3 linked regions of the Homo sapiens genome follow. The protein of the gene in region 1 interacts with the protein of each later gene in a pairwise test. Each region holds a gene or a part of one and is shown on either strand. Other genes may lie near its edges.

Evidence for each region.
Region 2: the proteins of TRAP1 (region 1) and HSD17B10 interact in binary tests that used the Homo sapiens proteins (3 or more experiments, as listed by UniProt).
Region 3: the proteins of TRAP1 (region 1) and PINK1 interact in binary tests that used the Homo sapiens proteins (3 or more experiments, as listed by UniProt).

What each region holds. Positions count from the first base shown.
Region 1 is NC_000016.10:3,707,468-3,714,627, forward strand, and holds part of TRAP1 (heat shock protein 75 kDa, mitochondrial isoform 1 precursor), read right to left. Parts: intron 2,936-7,160; exon of another isoform or gene 2,918-2,935; intron 1-2,917.
Region 2 is NC_000023.11:53,431,247-53,438,365, reverse strand, and holds HSD17B10 (3-hydroxyacyl-CoA dehydrogenase type-2), read left to right. Parts: upstream 1-3,995; 5' UTR 3,996-4,020; coding exon 4,021-4,047; intron 4,048-4,479; coding exon 4,480-4,644; intron 4,645-5,954; coding exon 5,955-6,119; intron 6,120-6,249; coding exon 6,250-6,378; intron 6,379-6,459; coding exon 6,460-6,568; intron 6,569-6,771; coding exon 6,772-6,962; 3' UTR 6,963-7,105; downstream 7,106-7,119. UniProt on the Homo sapiens protein: Mitochondrial dehydrogenase involved in pathways of fatty acid, branched-chain amino acid and steroid metabolism. Acts as (S)-3-hydroxyacyl-CoA dehydrogenase in mitochondrial fatty acid beta-oxidation, a major degradation pathway of fatty acids.
Region 3 is NC_000001.11:20,636,458-20,643,457, forward strand, and holds part of PINK1 (serine/threonine-protein kinase PINK1, mitochondrial precursor), read left to right. Parts: intron 1-1,384; coding exon 1,385-1,672; intron 1,673-3,434; coding exon 3,435-3,535; intron 3,536-6,199; exon of another isoform or gene 6,200-6,661; intron 6,662-7,000. UniProt on the Homo sapiens protein: Serine/threonine-protein kinase which acts as a sensor of mitochondrial damage and protects against mitochondrial dysfunction during cellular stress.

The sequences.
Region 1 (7,160 bases):
AGCCACCGCGCCCGGCCTTAAGAGGAAATGTTTCTAAACAAAATATATAACCCAAAAGGCCATAAATATAAGGACCACATAAAAATTTAAGTCAAAAGACAAACACCCGGGTGAGGTGGCTCATGCCTGTAATCCCAGCACTTTGGGAGGCTGAGGTGGGTGGATCGCCTGAGGTCAGGAGTTCGAGACCAGCCTGGCCAACATGGTGAAACCCCGTCTCTACCAAAAATACAAAAATTAGCTGGGAGTCGCAGCGGGCATCTGTAATCCCAGCTACTCCAGAGGCTGAGGCAGGAGACTTGCTTGCACTCGGGAAGCGAAGGCTGCAGTGAGCCAAGATCGTGCCACTGCACTCCAGCCTGGGCAACAGACAGAGCGAGACTCTAACTCAAAAAAAAAAAAAAAAAAGACAAACACATTAAGAAAAAAACTGGGGGCCAGGCACGACGGCTCCTGCGTGTAATCCCAGTACTTTGGCAGGCAGAAGTAGGAGGATCACTTGAGACCAGGAGTTCAAGACAAGCCGGGGCAATATAGTGGGACCCCATCTCTAAAAAAAATGTTTTTTAATTAGCCAGGCATGGTGGCACATGCTCCTTGGGAGGAAGAGGTCACAGCCACTTGGGAGGATGAGGCAGGAGTATCACTTGAGTCCAGGAGGTCAGGCCTGCAGCGAGCCAGGATCGCACAACTGCACTCCAGCCCGGATGACAAAGCAAGACCCTGCCTCTAAAATAAAATTTAGTGCCGTGGCTCACGCCTGTAATCACAGCACTTTGGGAGGTGGGGGCGGGCAGATCCCGAGGTCAAGAGTTTGAGACTAGCCTGGCCAACATGGCAAAACCCTGTCTCTACTAAAAATACAAAAAAAAACAAAAATTAGCCAGAAAGCCAGGAGCAGTGGCTCACACCTGTAATGCCAACACTTTGGGAGGCTGAGGCGGATGGATCATGAGGTCAGGAGTTCAAGACCAGCCTGATCAACATGGTGAAATTCCATCTCTACTAAAAATACAAAAATTAGCCGGGCGTGGTGACGGGTGCCTGTAGTCCCAGCTACTAGGGAGGCTGAGGCAGGAGAAATGCTTCAACCTGGGAGACGGAGGTTGCAGTGAGCCAAGATTGTACCACTGCACTCCAGCCTGGGCGACGGAGCGAGACTCCATCTCAAAATAAATAAATAAATAAATAAAAATAAATGAGCCGGGCATGGTGGCGCGTGCCTGTAATCCCGGCTACTTGTGAGGCTGAGGCGAGAGGACTGCTTAACCTCGGGAGGCGGAGGTTACAGTAAGGTGAGATGGCGCCACTGCACTCCAGCCTGGGCAACAGAGTCAGACTCTGTCTCAATTTTTTTTTTTTTTTTGAGATGGAGTTTTGCTCTGTTGCCGAGGCTGGAGTGCAGTGGTGCGATCGCGGCTCACTGCAAGCTCCGCTTCCTGGGTTCACGGCATTCTCCTGCCTCAGCTTCCCAAGTAGCTGGGACTACAGGCGCCCGCCACCATGCCCAGATAATTTTTTGTATTTTTAGTAGAGATGGGGTTTCACCGTGTTAGCCAGGATGGTCTCGATCTCCTGACCTCATGATCCGCCCGCCTCGGCCTCCCACAGTGCTGGGATTACAGGCGTGAGCCACCGTGCCTGGCCCGACACTGTCTCAATTTTTAAAAGTTATTTAAAAGGGCTAGCGCAGAGGTTACGGTGAGCCAAGATCACGCCACTGCACTCCAGCCTGGGCACCAAGTGCAAAACTCCATCTCAAAAAAAAAAAAAAAAAAAAGAAAAAGGCCATTGGTTCAAGAGAAAAATGGCCATTCACAAAAACAAGAAACATCAATGGCTTTACGTCCTAGTAAAAGATGTTTTACCACACTCATAACTAAGGAAATGCACTTTAAAACGAGATAGCATTTTCACTACCAGATTGACAGATGTTTTAAATACTGTCATTCTAGCACTGGTGAAGGTGTGAGAAACTGTTGGCAATGCCGTCTGTTATCTTGGGGAAACTCAGCAACAACCTAAATGTCCGCCATGAGAGGGTTACATAAATTACAAAACATCCTCGCTATGGAATACCAGAGCTCTGTGGCGACAGGAAACAAACCCCAGAATATAAGTGGAAAATGCAAGGTACGGAAGATTACACACGGTTCCTTCCCAGTTTACCTTTGTTTCCCTTTTTTTTGTGTGTGTGTGTGAGACGGAGTTTTCGCTCTTGTTGCCAGGCTGGAGTGCAGTGGCGCCATCTCGGCACACCACAACCTCCACCTCCCAGATTCAAGCGATTCTCCTGCCTCAGCCTCCTAAGTAGCTGGGATTACAGGCATGCGCCACCACGCCCGGCTAGTTTTGTATTTTTCGTAGAGACAGGGTTTCTCCATGTTGGTCAGGCTGGTCTCAAACTCCTAACCTCAGGTGATCCACCCGCCTCAGCCTGCCAAAGTGCTGGGATTACAGGCGTGAGCCACCGCGCCTGGCGAGAAGATTCTTAAGTACATGAACATTCTGAACAGAAAGACCTGTATTCCCTCACAAATGTCTGAGTTCTTAGCTCTGGCATTCTCAACACTCACTGTTTCTTGAGGTTTCCTGTGTTCCAGAACCTGGTCTAATCGTTCTCTACTATGATATACTGATACTTCATTCATCAGGAAACATAACTCCTTGAACATAAAGAAAAAGAACAAAAAGCGAAAGGGCACCTCGGAATAGTCAAAATATGGGCCTGAAGCCCTCACCCTGAGCTTTGCTCATGGAAGACTACTGGCCCCATATGAAATCCATCTCATTCTAACAATTTGATGCTAACAAGTTTCCCAGCCACATCTGCAAACTAGGAAAGGAGAGAACAGGGCTCCAGACAGACCTGCAAGTTAAGGCCACAGTAAGAGAGGCCAAAAATATAAACACTCACAATGCAGTTTTGATGTGGGGACACTTCATAGACGAAGGATTCTTCACATTTCAATGGCCCTACGGGAGCCTACATATTAAAACAGAAGACCAAACATTAACACCCGTAATAATGACCCTGAAAACATCCAAGAGAGGTTCAGTCATGGGCCATCAAATGATGGAGTGTTCTAGAAAGACTTCTCATCATAATGGTTAAAATGAAATGTTTTAAAGTCAGCCTCGTGGAAAATTCGCTTGAACATTCCATTGCCTGACAAATGCTGAAATACTGGCAAGTGTGAACTAACATGGCAATGTGCTGTCTTAATTTCTCCTTCGAGGTGCATATCACTAACCCGACACACATAGTTACATTAGAAGGACCCACGTCCTTCTGTCTTCTTCTCAGCAGCATTGCTGAATAGCCTCCTGCTCTTAATATGGCATTTAATTTAGCTATCTCAAAATTAATTTCTTTTATATGTGTGTGTGTATATATATATATATATATATATTTTTTTTTTTGAGACACTGTCACTCTGTCACCCAGACTGTAGTGCAGTGGCGTGATCACAGCTCACTGCAGCCTCGACTTCTCAAGGCTTAAGGGAGCCTCCCACTTCAGCCTCTTGGGTAGCTGGGACCACAGGCACACCCAGCTAATTGGAAAAAAAAAAAAAAGGGTTTTTTGGTAGAGATGGGGGTCTCTCTAGGTTGCCCAGGCTGGTCTCAAACTCCTAAACTCACAGGATCCTCCCGCCGCAGCCCCCAAAGTGCTGGGATTACAAGCATGAGCTACCAGGCCTGGCCAATTTTTTACCTTCTAGCCACATTTCTTAATTATATGGCTATGAAGTAACTGAGCCATTCCTTTTAAAACCAATGATTCAGCTACATGTCCTTTCAATCTACCCAATCTACAGGAATTCACCTGGTTAAAAAGCCAATGGCAGGGCTGGGAACGGTGGCGCACACCTGTAATCCCAGCACTTTGGGAGGCCGAGGCAGGCAGATCACAAGGTCAGAAGTTCAAGACCAGCCTGGCCAACATGGTGAAACTCTACCTCAACTAAAAATACAAAAATTAGCCGGGCACGGTAGTGCATGCCTGTAGCCCCAGCTACTTGGGAGGCTGAGGCAGGAGAACTGCTTGAACCCGGGAGGTGGAGATTGCAGTGAGCCGAGTTCGTGCCACTGCACTCCAGCCTGGGAAACAGAGCAAGACTCCATCTTGAAAAAAACAAAAAAAAAACAAAAACCAAAACAAAAACAAAAAAAACACAGGTGGCAGTAATACTCCCGCAAGTAGATACTGTTTCTCCAAGCTACAGCTTTTATGGTAATTCCTAGTGGTTTTAGCAGAAATAACCAGCCACACCACAAATAAACTCCCTGAAATCTATTTTGTTAAATGCTGTGGAACTACAGGGAAGCCACTTTGTGGACTAAGAGCAGCTTCCTAGTAGAAGGCAGGTCTTCAGTAGGACTAAGCAGGACGGTGGTAAGAAAAGTTCTAGCTGGCTACACTTGAGGCACCAAAAACGCCATCCATGAACATTCTCTGGCTTTGAACCCAAAAGCACTTTTTACTTCATTTGAGTATGAATGGATACATTTTCAATCGCTATCAAGATTCTTTGTCAGGCCCGACGTGGTAGCTCATGTCTGTAATCCCAGCACTTTGGGAGGCCAAAGCAGGCAGATCAAAAGGTCAAAAGATTGAGACCATCTTGCCCAACACGGTGAAACCTCGTCTCTACTAAAAATACAAAAATTGGCTGGCCATGGTGGCATGCACCTGTAGTCCCAGCTACTCAGGAGGCTGAGGCAGGAGAACTGCCTGAATTCAGGAGGCGGAAGTTGCAGTGAGCTGAGGTCATGCCACTGCACTTCAGCCTGGCGACAGAAAGAATCTGTCTCAAAAAAAAAAAAAAAAAAAAAAAAAAAAAAAAAAGATATGTCAGCATTTTGAGACAAGCAAGTATCACAGGCCTCAGTAACAGCCTCTTTCATGGAACTCACCTTTGTCACATGGTATTTACTGACATGGGGGGCAGGAGTAAATGTTTATTTTCCCACAGTTTTCTTATCAACCTGACACCCCCATCCCCACCCCGCAAGCTGCATTCCCTCTCTTCCTGCCAAGGGGTAGCAAAATACTTGGAGATTCCTCTTTTGTCTTAGCTTAGGCCAACTACTCACCCAGTAACCAATAAACGCTTTGCTAATCTCTTACATTCGGATTGATGTGTTTGTTTCCAAGACAGAGTCTTGCACTGTCGCCCAGGAGGGAGTGCAGTGGCACAATCTTGGCTCACTGCAACCTCCAACCTCCACCTCCCAGGTTCAAGCAATTCTCGTGCCTCAGCCTCCCAAGTATCTGGGATTACAGGCGCCTGCCACCACCCTGGCTAATTTCTTTGTATTTTTAGTAGAGACGGGGTTTCGCCATGTTGGCCAGGTTGGTCTCAAATTCCTGAACTCAAGTGATCCACCCACCTCGGCCTCCCAAAGTGCTGGGATTACAGACGAGAGCCACCGCGCCCGGCCTGATGTGTTCTTTTTCAGGCACTCAGATAACTCAGTTCCCTTGGTCCTAACTAAGCTGAAGGTCCTCCTGGTGGCCTTGGACAGCTGGGCCACACCTTCCTCTGCCGTCTAAGTGCCAGCACCACAGCTTAATCAGACGACAAACATGTCATGGACGCTACACCTCTAGCGTCATCTCAGCAACACAAAGAGCTGTTTCACAGACAGAGTCGCAACTGACCAGCAAGTACTACTCCCCTCCACTCTGAAAAGAACAGCCGGAGAGCACCAGAAATTCACCTGAATTCTCCTGAAGGGTGCAGCACACAAGACACGGAAATCAAACAGCACAGGCTCCAAACAAAGGGAGAGCAGAGGGAGGAGGCAAAACCCGTCAACAAAACGAAGTACTGAAGGGGAGGGCGCAGCAGGCAGGCACCACCTACAGGAGCGGGGTCCAGGTGAGGCTCTTTTTGGAAGATGAAACAAACTAGCTAGTACTTGAGCCCTGAGCAAAGTGAGGAAACCAGCTCTCCCGACCTTCCTGGTGCTGGCAGGGGACCTACTCTCACAACTCTGATTTCCAAGACAGGAAGTTCCAGCAAAGGCTCCAGCTTACAGAGAACAAAAAGGCCCAAGATCTTAACGCCTGCACCAACCAGTCCTATCGTGGTTGCCTCAGTCATGTTCTGGCAATTTCACGAAAACAAGAGCATCTGGCATGACCAGGAGACTGGACTCGGCACCCTTGGTGATTGTGGCAGTCACCTCGTCATGCAAAATGACCAACCCGTCACCGTACCTGCCTGACCACAGAATCACGTTTGCTTTGGGAGACTGCGTCTGCTGTTGATCTTTCCAGGTCTTCCCTCTCCTTTAGGAGGCGGCCTCATCCTTCTACTGGCACATCTGACACTTCTGACAGTTGGAGCTCTGACGAAAAGCTCTCATGGTGGGCCACGTGGCTGGGCTCCCCACACACCAGGCCCAGGGCTGGCTCTGTGACTGTCCTGAGGAATGCAGGATGAGGCTCCTACGCACAAGCTTATATCTGACAGAAAAGACACAACTGCTAGCCTCATTCACCATCACTCCTGCACACTCCCGCAAGTCTTTCATCAAACCAATTATTCAGAGCTATCTCCTTACCCTTGCACCTGCAGCTTTCCAGACATGGAACGTTCCTCCCTCCCCTCCAGTGAAAACAGCCTTGGACACTCGGCCCAAATCGCTCCTCATCTGTGAAACTTACCCTGGGGCAAGCAGCTCTTGTTTCTCTAATGTGCTGTCCAGGCCACCAAGATGGCCCTGGTACACTGCTCAGCAGCCACCTATGACTCCAGACAGCAGGGTCACATTTTCTTTGACGACTCGGGGGCATTGGAAATGTATTTGCTGAATAAACTGTTATGGGCAAAAATGACAAATATAAAGTCCACAAGCGGATATCCTAGCCCACCCCTCACAGAAATATTCTGAGGGTAGGCCAGGCGCAGTGGCTCACGCCTGTAATCCCAGCATTTTGGGAGGCCAAGGCTAGTGGATCATGAGGTCAGGAGTTCGAGACCACCCTGGCCAGCATAGTGAAACCCCATCTCTATTAAAAATACAAAACCTAGCTGGGTGTGGTGGCATGCGCCTGTAGTCCCAGCTACGTGGGAGGCGAAGTCAGGAGAATCACTCGAACCCAGGAGGCGGAGGGTGTGGTGAGCTGAGGTTGCACCACTGCACTC
Region 2 (7,119 bases), on another chromosome or scaffold:
CCCAGCTCACTCAGAAATGACAGGCTCTGTATAATCATCACTTGGGGTTCTTCTTTTCCCCTCACATAGATGATGATATAATTGGGATTCTTTATATTTGTCAATGTCACCTCAGAGCCAGCTGGAACCAGTGCAGCTCTGTCTTTGCAGAGGTAACTGCAGGTGCCCACAAGAGTTAAATGGGTTATCTTGTGGTTTTTATCTCCCAGGAGTGAAGACCACCCAGGAGTAAAGACCACCTTTATTCTTCTCTGTTTCCTGGCAGGGCTAATTTGACACAATGCTGCGTGTTGCTTGTTTTGGTGTCCTTGCTGGGCCCCTTTGCGCACCTCTGGCCCTCAGGTTCCCATGAGACATGCATCCAAACTGTTGAGTATGTGCGTGTAAAGGTTGACATCACTTTATTCCCTATTTTTTTGTGTGTGTGGAGACAGGGTCTTGCTATGTTGCCCAGGCTGGTCTCAAACTCCTGGGCTCAAGACATCCTGCTGCTTCAGCCTCCCAAAATGTTAGGATTACAGGCGTGAACCACTGCACTCAGCCCCTATTCCCTATTTTCTAATGGTTTTGAGACAGAGGTGCGTGCAATCAAGAGAGAGGATGCTCAGTAGCAGAAATCCCCAAGAAAGTGGGAGGGGCTGGGACACAAAACCCAGTGGAAGGGTGAGCCCTAAACAGGACATCTCTGAGACCCAAGGAAAGGATGGTGTGGGTGGGTAGAGACAATTTTGGAGGTGGCAAGAGAGAAGTATTCACTAATGGCTTCCGTTTGCTCTAAAAACAGTTCTTTTAATTGTGCAGCCCTCAGAACCAGAAGAAGTTCAGAGAGCTCCCTCTAAACACAGTTCTTAACCCACAATCCAAAAGACCCCTGAGGAGTCAGTGAATAGAATTCAAAGAGCCCATGGACTTGGATAGAGGGGAAATTGCATCATTATTTTCACTATTACTAACAGAAATATAGCATATCCTTCCAGGGGATGTGGGTAACAAACTGCAGTAATATTAGCACCTGTGACTTTGACACTAAGAGAGATCAGATTTTCATTATTACGGTTGTTGCATATCTCTCAAAATAACATCACTATTTCAAAAATCATGGTTGTCACTAGACCTGTTGATAGAGCTTGCTATTTAATGTGTTAATAAAGAAGCACATATATTACTACATTACAGGTGCGTTTCCTTTTATTTTGAAAATTGTACCCCAATATAATTGGTTTCTTTTGTAATCCTACTTATAGGACGCATGCATTATTCTGGGAAGGGGTTCCTAAGACTTCACCAGACTCCCATAGGTGTCCGTAGCATAGAAAAGGATGAGAAACACTGCTCTGAAGAGTAACCATAGCTAACACTTATATAGCTCTTGCTAAAGGCCAAGCACTGTTCCAAGTCCTTTTTAAATACATAGTTGTTAACTCATTTATTCCTAACAACCCTACGAATAGTCATTTGTTTATACTCATTTTACAGAAGAGGAAACTGAGGCACATCAGTTAAGTAACTTGTCCAGGGTCATTCGGCTAGTAAATAATAGAGCTGAGGCTGGGCGCGATGGCTCATGCCTGTAATCCCAACACTTTGGGAGGCTGAGGCAGGGCGGATCACCTGAGGTCAGGAGTTCAACACCAGACTGGCCAACATGGTAAAATCCCATCTCTACTAAAAATACAAAAATTAGCCAGGCGTGGTGGCCCATGCCTGTAATTTCAGCTACTCTGGAAGCTGAGGCAGGAGAATTGCTTGCACCCAGGAAGCGGAGGTTGCAGTGAGCCAAGATGCGCCACTGCACTCCAGCCTGGGCAGCGGGAGACTCCATCTCAAAAAAAAAAAAAAAAGCGGTAGAGGGGAAGAGATCCAAGACAACTCGAGAACATGGTCAGAGAGAGAAAAGATGGTGTGTAGATGCTGGGGAGGGCAGGAGGTTATTCCAGGGAATGACAAGTGCAATAAGGTGGCCTGGACAGGTGGTTAAAGTAGAGAGGAGGTGAAGGTTCCCGGAGTTGGGCAGGTGAAAGAATCATGAAACTGTGCCTGGAAATTCTTCCAAGATTAATTCATTAATTCATTTATTTCACACATTTGTTTTAAGTGTCTTGTACACGCCAAGCAGTGTTCTCGGCATTAGGTGAACCAGCTGGACAAGCCCCTGGTGCCATGGGGCTTACCTTCCAGCAGGGGGAGAACTACACAAACAAGGCCAGGTTAGCGGAGCATGCAGGCTCACAAGCCTGTAGGCACAATCCTGCAATGCCAAAACTTCTGAAAAGCATAAGGTTGTTTTTTCATACTTTGGAGCCCAAACTCAATAGATGACAAAACCTGACCTGAAGTAGTGTGAGGCTATTTATAGTCTTTATTCACACTTGGTGTGAATTTTCATACCTTTCACTTCAGAAATATTAATATTTCATTACGATGCTCCAGGCTTTTCTCAATAGTTATATAATATAGACTATACAAAAAGTTATGTTTGACTAGTTTTTTTAAAGAGTTATGTAATATAAATTACATGTCTTCCTTTCTCAAATTGAAAAAAACTCTGAATTCCACAGCACATCTGGCCCTAAGGTTGGAAAATGGATTACGGACATGCAAGTGCTATGAAGATAATTCAAATATGCAATGGGATAGTGTCTAGGTGGCTACAGTTTGAATATTTAGGGAGGACCCCTCTGGGAAGGTGATATTTAAGCTTAGTTCTGAATGAAAAAAAATAAAAGCAGTCATGCAAAGATCAGGGGAGAGCATTCCAAGCAGAGGGAGCAGCTAATGCAAAGATGAACACAAAGGAGGCCACTGTGGCTACAGCATATTGGGCCGGATGAAGAGTGCTATAAATTGATGGAAGCACTTCATGTAGATAGGAAAATTGTGAGACCGGTGTGCTAAATCCTTTGGTAAATACGGTGTAGTGATTATGAGTGTGGTGGCTGTCAACAACTAGAAGGCCTGGAGGGGAATCTTCCTGGGTGAGAAAGCAAGTGGGGGGAGATATTTCAGATAGAGAAAACATAAAGCAGTTCTGAGGCTGAAATGGTGGGCTAAGATTTATGGCCTGAAGACCTTGGTTTGAGGAAAAGTATAGAAGGAAGACAGATTAGATATCTGGGCTCAAGACTCTAATGACATAGCTTCTGGAAGCTGCCTGAAAGATGTTCTAGGATGACAAAGACCTGGGTCTTAAATAATAGTCTCTGGTTGAAGTCCAATCTGCAGTGTGTGATCTGGGCTTTTGGACTTAAATTAGACAAAGATAGAGGAGAGTAGCAAAGCCTGAACTGATGAAAGATGTTTTTGCCTCTTTAGGTTTGTGCTTCTCAGCAGCTGTCCTAGAATGTCTGTCTCCAAGCATCTCTCTTAGCGGCTTTCCACATTCATCTCTCTGTGATCCTACCTGGCATCTCTCTTCCTATCTCGGCCTCAACATATTTCTCTTTACATGGCTCTCTCTCTCTCTAACTCAGACTCCTCATCTTTGGATCTCCTTGTCTGAGTGTCCCAGAATCTGGTTCCGTCCATTCGTCTGTGTCTGTACTGTAATTCTCTTTCTCCACCTGGACTGTGCCCTCCTGGAAGGCATGAATCTTTTATTATTCCGCTGGGTATCCCAGGTGCCCCGCACACCGTCTAGCATATAGGAGTCTCAAATACATTCATACTTGAATTAAGACTTTTTCAGAGGAGAAAGGCATCCGTTCTCAATATCCACCCCTCTTCCCCCACGCGGAGCAGGCCACTTGCCAAAAGGCCAGCTAGAGAGTAGGGCGAGGGGTGTTGTGGTATTGTACTTCTGCTATTGGTCTCTTTCCCCAGTTGAAATAACTCTGGGGATACCTTAGCAGGCGGAATCCGCCCTCTGGCCAAAGGACTAGCGTACCAGGCCACGCCCCCACGTCTCATGCGGCAGCGGCAGACGCCCCGGCCCGTCGCATCCGCCCCTTCCGCCGCTTCGCCTCGGCCAATCAACGAGCGCCCGCGCCCCCATCCCCATCCCGTGGAGTGGCCGGCGACAAGATGGCAGCAGCGTGTCGGAGCGTGAAGGTAGAAGGTTCTTTGCCTCTGTTGCTTGCCTTCCTTTACGGGCCGGGACAGCGCGGCCGTGGAACTAGGAGAAAGAGATCGGTTTCGAGGGAAAGGGTCATGCTTATGTAGGCCTGGTATTGTGGCCGTTGGGCTCAAGAGGTGAAAGTCAGCACTCCGCGGCGCATCTGTCTGTCTGTCTGTCTGTCTATCTATCTATCTATCAATCATCTATCTATCTATCGTCACGGGACGGGCTGTCTGGGGATGAGATCCCTTCTGCCCCCGAGGTCCCAACGCTGAGGAGAAGCAGCACACCTAGTTTACCCGCAGGGGTGACCACGACCTCTCCCCTCCCCCCTTCTCCTCAGAAGCCTGGAGAACAGGCAGGCGACAGCGTGGGGATGGTCTGGGCAATGTAACAGCTGACCCTGACCATGTCCCTTTTGACAGGGCCTGGTGGCGGTAATAACCGGAGGAGCCTCGGGCCTGGGCCTGGCCACGGCGGAGCGACTTGTGGGGCAGGGAGCCTCTGCTGTGCTTCTGGACCTGCCCAACTCGGGTGGGGAGGCCCAAGCCAAGAAGTTAGGAAACAACTGCGTTTTCGCCCCAGCCGACGTAAGTGGGGTCACCTCTCCTCTCCCAGGGTGTGCATGAGGTCACCAACACCGGCCTGGGAACCTGTGGGGGTCCCTCCCATAAGGGTCTCCTCTATGGGGGCGGTAGACCCATCTCCTTGTCTCTTTTGGCCTGAGCCTTCAAGCACTGTGGGACCACCTGTGATAAGGATTCTCTAAAGCTGGGATTCACAACAATGAGGATGGGGATTGGACGTAACAATCTCCTGGAGGAGTTATGTATGGTTTGAAAATGCATTTTGTGCCTTGTAATTTTATATTTACAAAGTCAAAAAACTTGTTTTCATGAAACAAACTACAGAAAGTGAAACTTGATGAAATCATCTTAGCAGGTAAGGATACAAAAAAGCTAGTTTATCTTCCTATCAATAATTCTCACAAGAGGGTTATTTTTTATTTTTATTTTTGAGATGGAGTCTCGCTCTGTTGCCCAGGCTGGAGTGCAGTGGCACAATCTCAGCTCCTTGCAACCTCCATCTTCTGGGTTCAAGCGATTTTCCTGCCTCAACCTCCCAAGTAGCTGGGATTACAGGCACCTGCCACCACGCCCAGCTAATTTTTTTTTTTGTATTTTTAGAAGAGATGGGGTTTCACCATGTTGGCCGGGCTGGTCTTGAACTCCTGATCTCACGTGATCCGCCCGCCTCGGCCTCCCAAAGTGCTGGGATTACAGGTGTGAGCCACTGCACCCAGCCTCACAACAGGGTTGCATTAGTGCTCTGATCCACAGCAATTAAGAATCTTCAGGAGCATGTGAATTTATCAAGAAGGTATTGATTTGAAAAATGTTTTTGCAACACTGCTCTATATTACCTAATATTTTCACCTTTGACCTACTCTCTCAATTTTTTTTTTTGGGACAGAGTCTCACTGTTGCCCAGGCTGCAGTGCAATGGCACGATCTCAGCTCACTGCAACCTCTGCCTCCCGGGTTCAAGCGATTCTTCTGCCTCAGCCTTCCAAGTAGCTGGGATTACAGGCATGTGTCACTATGCCGGCTAATTTTGTATTTTTAGTAGAGACGGGTTTTCACCACGTTGGCCAGGCTGGTCTCAAACTCCTGATCTTAAGTGATCCACCAGCCTCGGCCTCCCAAAGTGCTGAGATTACAGGCATGAGCCACCGCACCCAGCCTATCTCTCAAGTTTTACAACCTTTCTCTTGGCCTCTCCCTTCTCACAAATCTCTTCTCACCCAAGGACTGGGCATGCCCTGCCCTGCCCTCCCTCAGGTTTAGTGGGAAGAGTGGGTGCTGGGAGATGAATACCTTCTCCACTTCTCTCTTTGAAGGTGACCTCTGAGAAGGATGTGCAAACAGCTCTGGCTCTAGCAAAAGGAAAGTTTGGCCGTGTGGATGTAGCTGTCAACTGTGCAGGCATCGCGGTGGCTAGCAAGACGTACAACTTAAAGAAGGGCCAGACCCATACCTTGGAAGACTTCCAGCGAGTTCTTGATGTAAGGCCTTGGAAGTTCTCCAGGGATAGTGGTAGTAAGAAGTATCTGGCTGTGGAGGACCCCAAAGTTTTTAGGGGACAAAGGCTTCTTCTGCCTCAGGTCCTATAGCATGTCTCCATCTGTCCTACAGGTGAATCTCATGGGCACCTTCAATGTGATCCGCCTGGTGGCTGGTGAGATGGGCCAGAATGAACCAGACCAGGGAGGCCAACGTGGGGTCATCATCAACACTGCCAGTGTGGCTGCCTTCGAGGGTCAGGTGTGTGGGCAGGGGTAAGACTTATGCCTCCTAAGTGACTTGTTGGGGCCCTCCCACCTATGACTTCTACTCTTTCTCCAGGTTGGACAAGCTGCATACTCTGCTTCCAAGGGGGGAATAGTGGGCATGACACTGCCCATTGCTCGGGATCTGGCTCCCATAGGTATCCGGGTGATGACCATTGCCCCAGGTAGACATATCCCCTCTCTCCATCATACCTGGGATTGGGTGGGATCCATGGACAGTTGAGAGGGGAAGGTATCCACCACCTAAGCAGCAGCAGCCTTTTATCTTTGGGCCCCAGAGAAGCACCAAGAAGTAGGGCTAAAGTAAGGAAGAACCAGGTAATCATGAAAGCAAGGGTGAGTCTCTGAATTTGGCTATATTGTTTAGGTCTGTTTGGCACCCCACTGCTGACCAGCCTCCCAGAGAAAGTGTGCAACTTCTTGGCCAGCCAAGTGCCCTTCCCTAGCCGACTGGGTGACCCTGCTGAGTATGCTCACCTCGTACAGGCCATCATCGAGAACCCATTCCTCAATGGAGAGGTCATCCGGCTGGATGGGGCCATTCGTATGCAGCCTTGAAGGGAGAAGGCAGAGAAAACACACGCTCCTCTGCCCTTCCTTTCCCTGGGGTACTACTCTCCAGCTTGGGAGGAAGCCCAGTAGCCATTTTGTAACTGCCTACCAGTCGCCCTCTGTGCCTAATAAAGTCTCTTTTTCTCACAGAGTGTAGGCAGTG
Region 3 (7,000 bases), on another chromosome or scaffold:
CAGCCTCCTGAGTAGCTGGGATTACATGTGCACACCACCACACCCGGCTAATTTTTTGTATTTTTTAGTAGAGACGGGGTTTCACTATGTTGGCCAGGCTGGTCTTGAACTCCTGACTTCATGATCCGCCTCCCTCGGCCTCCCAAAGTGCTGGGATTACAGGCATGAGCCACCACGCCCGGCCTGGACTTTCATTTTTTTAAAAGGTTCAAAGTTATAGTGCAAGGTTAAGTTGCTTACAGATAGCAGGTGCTTTAGGAACCCTCTAGAAGGAAAGTTGCCATGGGCTGGGTCATCAGGGCTGGTCACAGAGGAAGGAGGAGCTTGAGTTGGGCTTGATGGCTGAGCAGGGATGAGCCAGACAGAGCAATACTATAGAAACAGGGGCTGGAAGGATGCTGTGAGCAGCTTTCAGAGGGAGGCGTCCAAAGGATGAGTGCAGGCAGCGTGCAGACCAGCCTGGCAGCAGCCAGAACACAGATAACCTCCTGGGCAGTCTGATGGACAGCCGAGTGACACATGAAAGCAACATATTTTGATGTGGCTCAGAGCAGGGAAGGCACGGCACTGAGAGTGGGGTAGTCTAGAGATGGTGCCTGGTAGGCTATGGCCAAGGGGCATATGCAGAGCTGTGCCTGGCACCCAGGGGTGACTAACCTTGGAAAGGAAGAGCTCAGCAGATCAGACCATTTGAGAGGGAAAGCGGAGCCTGGGTGACTGGAAGAGTGACGTCACCGCTGCCTGAAGCAGGGGAAGACCCACCAGATTTTTGTCACATGGCCTCTTTCCCAGTGCAGCACTGCCCCCAGCACCTGCACCTCCATCTATTTCTGTCTGAACTCTTGTACTCTTGCTACCTTTCTGGACAGAGTAGCCTCATCGGGGCCCTAAGAGGCAGAGAGAGAAAGACAGTACTGAATCCCTCTGCTCTGGGGATGCGCCTGATGTCACCCACTTGCCTGAGAGACCCTCTGAGATCACTGTGGATCACACACTCCTGCTAGTTGCCCAGGAGCCGTCAGCCAAGGTCTTTGCAGAGCGAGCTGTCTCCATAATCAGACACCTCCAGAACTCTGCTGGAGAGTGAAGGCAGCAAGGAGAGGTGCACTGGCTGCGGGACGTGGGGTTTCTGACCTCTCAGATCATTGAGTATTGTGATCCCAGTGAAGCAACAGAGTTTGAGAAAAATCATTCTGAATAATGAGAAAGAAGATGGCCTGGACCCAGGCTGAGCAGTAGAACCTGGTTGGGTTGTGTTTTTCTGGTTTATTGATCTGGTCGACGTGGACCACGCCTTGCTGCACCTCTCTCTGCCTCCCCTGTTTCCCTTTTCTTGGGCCTTCCTAGGCTCCCTGGCTCACGGTGCATTCTTTTCTCATCACAGGCAATTTTTACCCAGAAAAGCAAGCCGGGGCCTGACCCGTTGGACACGAGACGCTTGCAGGGCTTTCGGCTGGAGGAGTATCTGATAGGGCAGTCCATTGGTAAGGGCTGCAGTGCTGCTGTGTATGAAGCCACCATGCCTACATTGCCCCAGAACCTGGAGGTGACAAAGAGCACCGGGTTGCTTCCAGGGAGAGGCCCAGGTACCAGTGCACCAGGAGAAGGGCAGGAGCGAGCTCCGGGGGCCCCTGCCTTCCCCTTGGCCATCAAGATGATGTGGAACATCTCGGTAAGCACCAGGCCTTTCATCTTTAAAGGAGATGTTCTCAAAATGCCCATCTTAGTGGGCCTGGTGAGGATTTTTTCCAGGAAGTAGGTAGGAAAAGACAGATTATCCACAGGAAAGGTGCCTGTATAGTCAGGTTACCTCCCCCTGTTACACAGAAGTCTAAACCAGAATGTTTGAAATTGTATTCTGCCCACAGATCACCCAGAGATCAGGTTCAAAGGTAGATTTTGGCCAGGCCTGGTGGACCATGCCTGTAATCCCAGCACTTTGGGAGGCCAATCACTTGAGCTCAGGAGTTTGAGACCAGCCTGGGCAACATGATGAAACCCCATCTCTATGAAAAATACAAAAATTAGCCGGGTGTGACAGCTTGCACCTGTATGTAGTCTTAGCTACTTGGGTGGCTGGTGGCTGAAGTGGGAGGATCACTTGAGTGCAAGAGGCAGAGGCTGCAGTGATCCAAGATTGTGGCACTGCACTCCAGCCTGGGTAACAGAGTAAGACCCTGTCTCAAAACAAAACAAACAAACAAAAAAAACCCAAAGGTAGATTCTGATTCAGCAGGTCAGGGATGGGGCCTAAGATTGTGCCTTCCCAATAAGCTCCCACGTGATACCAATGCCACTGCTCTGTCAACCACACTTTGAGTAACAAGTGCCTAAACCACTGATTTCTACCTTGATTGGTTAGTTCACCATCCCCTCCTTCCTGCAACCTGCCTCACTGGAGAGGGGGAACTGGATCTCTTTCCTTTAAGCTCACTCTGCAAGCCCACCTCCAGCTCAGAGGCTTGCATGTCAACTCCCTACTCTCAACTCTTGGAAGGACTCAAGACTTTGGGAAATTGAAGAGTATTTTTCCCCCACGAAAACAATTTCTGTCCACTTAATTTATTTACCTTGCCATTGCTAGGTAGGTTTTAAAAATGTATTAAGACCCGATGCTCTGTCTCCTGCCCATCCCTGGGCCCATCCATTCAAGGCCGCAGTGGGAAGTGGCCACAGCCGTTCATGGTGGGCCCTAGAGGATGCAGTTTCTTGTTCTGATTTGGGGAATGAAGGTTATTAGACTGTTGCACTCCAAGCTGGGTTAATAGCTAACAAGTAGCCAAATCCTTTGCCTGTGAAACATCCAGTCTTAGCATCAAAACATGCCCTGGTTGGGGCATGACAGCTGTTGCATTCACAGCAGCTACAAGATTGTTGATTCTTACCAGATCTTCTTGATACAGGTTTCATATGTCCTGAGAGCCCTTCCCAATACAATGAGGACAATAAGGTGCTTTCCCCACTCTTTGGTTTTTGTCTGTTTGTCGTGGGGGATGGAGGAAGGCTGTTCTGTGATTCAGTACAACTTCACCCAGGGTGGAGCATGTCAGGCTCTGGCCTGGCTGCTGAAGGGAGCCTGCAGAATGAGTTAGTGATCCAGTGGTCAATTTTGAACTGGTGGGGACCAGAGGCACCGATGGCAGGAAGCAGCACCCCATATCCTGATCACCTTGGCATCTCCTCCAGCCCTGGCATCTAGGCTGCAAGAGTTTGAGGAGTGTGAAGAATCCTCTGAGTTGGCATGGATGGTACCTCTGTCTGCCTCCCAGGAGTAACTAGTCTCAGCCTGCCAGTTAAGACAGGTCATCTTATCTCGAAGGTCAGAGCCAATTCTAGGCAGTAGCTGCCCTGCTCCAGGTTACAGGCAGGGCTTACAAGGAACTTACCATTCTGCTCCGGCCTGTGTAACCCTGGGTTCCTTGTGGGTGTTCCAGGCAGGTTCCTCCAGCGAAGCCATCTTGAACACAATGAGCCAGGAGCTGGTCCCAGCGAGCCGAGTGGCCTTGGCTGGGGAGTATGGAGCAGTCACTTACAGGTAAGTGCCCTCTGCCTGCCAGACTGACTGGGACTTCTTTGAGAGCAACTTCATCCATCACTTATGTCCTCAGCACCTGGTACAGTGTCTGATATGACAGTAGATAATAAAGGCTTAATGTTGGTGATGGATTTTCAGTTAGTGGATAATTTCACTTGGGAAAGATTGCAGGTAATCTGACCCCAAATGATGATGCACTTGCGTAATTCACATTGGAGCAGGGGAGAGGAGGCCCCCCAAAAATGCCCAGTTCACAGTGTTGCATGATTGACTGGGGTTCTCAGATTCCTCCTAAGAAATGCACGGGTAGAGCGCCACCTATCGGAATAAACTGAACTCTGTCCCCACCAGAGGGAACACTCATTTCACTAATAGTTATGTGCACTGATGGTGCCAAGAGATTTTAAAAAAAACAAAAAGTGGTCTGTTGGCCCAGAGGTCTCAGTGTGGCAGCAGAGAGCCCAGGGTGTAAGTGCTAGAATCGAGTATGCTTGGGCTGAGGGAGCCCAGGGGAGGCGTGTGCTGCAGAGGAGGGGCTGCTCAGAAAGCCTTCTCAAAGGGACAGTTTGTGCCACCTTGTGAAGGATGAATTGGCATTACTTGGGCAGAGGAGTAGGGAAGTGGCATTCCCAGCAGAGGGAAGAGCAAGTGAACAGCAGCTACGCTTTCAGCTCAGAAAAGCCCATGTCCACCACCAGCCTCACCACAGGTGGTGAGGACTGACGCGCAGGCTATGACAGAGGAGATACTTGTGCCCACCTCAATATTTACAGCCTGGCTCATGCCTGTAATCCCAGCACTTTGGGAGGCTGAGGTAGGCAGATCACTTGAGCCCAGGAGTTCAAGAGCAGCCTGGGCAACATGGTGAAACCCCGCCTTTACAAAAAATAAATTTTAGCCGGGCATGGGGGCAAATGCCTGTGATCCCAGCTACTCAGGAGGCTGAGGCGGGAGGATCATTTGAGTCCAGGGAGGTTGAGGCTGCAGTGAGCCAAGATCATGCCACTGCACTCCAGCCTGGGCGACCCTGGAGTGAGACCCTGTCTCTCATTTGTAGACCCACCAAGAAGAGGTGGGTCTGCTGCATTTTTGGTGATTTACTGGAGGGCTGGTTTATAGATCTTCATTCTGTCAGAAGCAGGGAGGCAAAAGTATGAAATTAAGGGAGTGGTTGTGGAAAACCCCTTCCATGGTTTGGAGGTTTCCAATGTGACTGGGAGTCCCTGCAGGCCGGTGGAGGTAGCTGCTCAAGTGGCTGCTGCTTCTCCTGAGGCCTTTTTGGAGAAAGTGGACACCTGAATGTCAGCTGCTTTGGGGCTAACATGATCCTTGATGCCTCCTTTTGTGGCATGAGTGGCAGCCGGCCGACGTGGTGCTGTCCTGCTGCCGGAGCACCATGATGTCTGCTGCTGAGACCTCCCATCTGACATAGTCCCTGTCCCTCTTCAGGGACTTTGTTCCTTTAGCAGTTCTCACTGTCTGGCCTCAAATAACACGTCTTTTTCTGTTGGTTCCTTTTTGCTCCAGCTGTACTGTAAACACTCTTTGTTTACTGCATACCCTCAGTAAATACCTGTTGAATGACCGGATAGATGTGGCAGCAGGTACATTACCTCAACTTCTGGTACACCTTGGGAGAAGCTTTCCCAAGAACACCCTGGGTTCATTTCCTCCTAGCCTCTGCTCTCCTGGGGCCCAGAGATTGAAGGCGCTTAACCTGCTCATCTCACCACGTCTCCCGCCTTATCTCTCACCCTTCTCATCAGCACCCTACACTCCACCACGCTGGCTTCATAGCTCCTTCCCCGAATGTGCCAGGCTTCTCTGTGACCATCTCTTGAGCGTACAGCTGGCTATACCTGGGCTGCCCTCCTCCCACATTTCAGGTCTCAGTTCAGACACCCGCAACCCCACCATGTATCTCCCCAGTACAGCCATACTCCTCTGCCCCTGAGCTCCCATGACACCTGCTGGGGCCCTGACAGCCTGGGGCTGTGATCATGACTTGCCCAGGGGCCCGAGGGTGGAAACGATGCTCTGGCTCCTTTGATTGCATAGAACAGGGGCCACTCAGGTTGACTCAAGAGCAGGAGCAGCGCGTGGGCACACGTGGACTGCAGCCACACAGCCTGGGGACCATGCAGTGCTGGGAGAGGCCGGTGCCCTGCTCTCTCCCCAGCACCGTCTAGGCTCTGCCCCATTCGCTTCCCTCCACCATTGTTATGCAGCAAAGGGGGCTCTAGCCTGATGTGCTAGAAGCAGTCACACTGGATTTTTGAGAAAAGCCAAGCTTTCTATTGTGAGTCGACTCATATGGAGACAGGAGTTGAATTCAACCCTGTCTCCCTGTGCTAGCTTTAAGGCGGTAATTTTATTAGAGGAGGTTTAAGGGGTGGATTCTAAGATTAGCAGGTGATTGATGGAAGGAAAGGAGAAGTCTGGACAGTCCTTGGACATGCACAGTTATCTGTTCATGCCAACTCATGGGTCCCCTGTGCAGATTTGGGAGGAGTGAGTATGAAACGTGCAGTGGCAATTCAGGCTTTGACATCAGCAAACTTGTTCTGTGCAAGCTGCAATTGGCCTTATTGGTTCCAACCAATTTCAGCCAGTTCTTTTATCTCATAAGCAGAGGGAGTTTCAGCCTTTCAGAAAGTGGTTTCTGCAAACTCAAATTTTCTTTTATTTTTCTGAGACAGGGTCTTACTCTGTTGCCCAGGCTGGAGAGCAGTGGCGTGATCTTGGCTCACTGCAGCCTCAACCTCCCTGGGCTCAAGTGATCCTCCCACCTCAGCCTCCCAAGTAGCTGGGTCTGCAGGCACATGCCACCATGCCCAGCTAATTTTTGTAGTTTTTGTAGAGACAGAGTTTCTCCATGTTGCCCGGGCTGGCCTCGAACTCCTGGGCTCAAGCAATTGCCTGCCTCAGCCTCCCAAATTGCTGGGATTACAGGAGTGAGCCACGGGAATTTCCATCAGTTACTGATTCTTGAACTTGTAGGAACGTGGTTCCACTGTCCACATGCTGTTCTTTCCTCGCATCTCCTGTTCCTGCTTCCCTTTGGCCTGCTCACCTCTGGCTCCTCATGGCCCCAGTGAAGTATCGTGGCTTCCTCTCCACTGCAGACTGGCAGATTTCTTCACTCACACTCCCAAAAAGAGAATCTACTTCCCTCCCTTCCCTTCGTCCAACCATCTGGGTCTCGAGTGTCACTGTAGGTTCACTGCCGTTGGGGCAGGTGACTCCTTGGGCCAGTCAGCTTTGGCTGAAGGGCAGGGCTGGCACACAGCTGGCAGAGCCACCCCATCCAAAATCCAGCCACTGTGCCTCAGCAGGGCTGTGGTTTGGGGGTCGGGGGGCGCTCCCCACAGGATAAGGAGCAGCCAGGGCAGGCAGATGACACTACCACTACTAGCTGCATCTGGATCTATTCACTTATTCAACAAAGGTTTATTACACCCATAT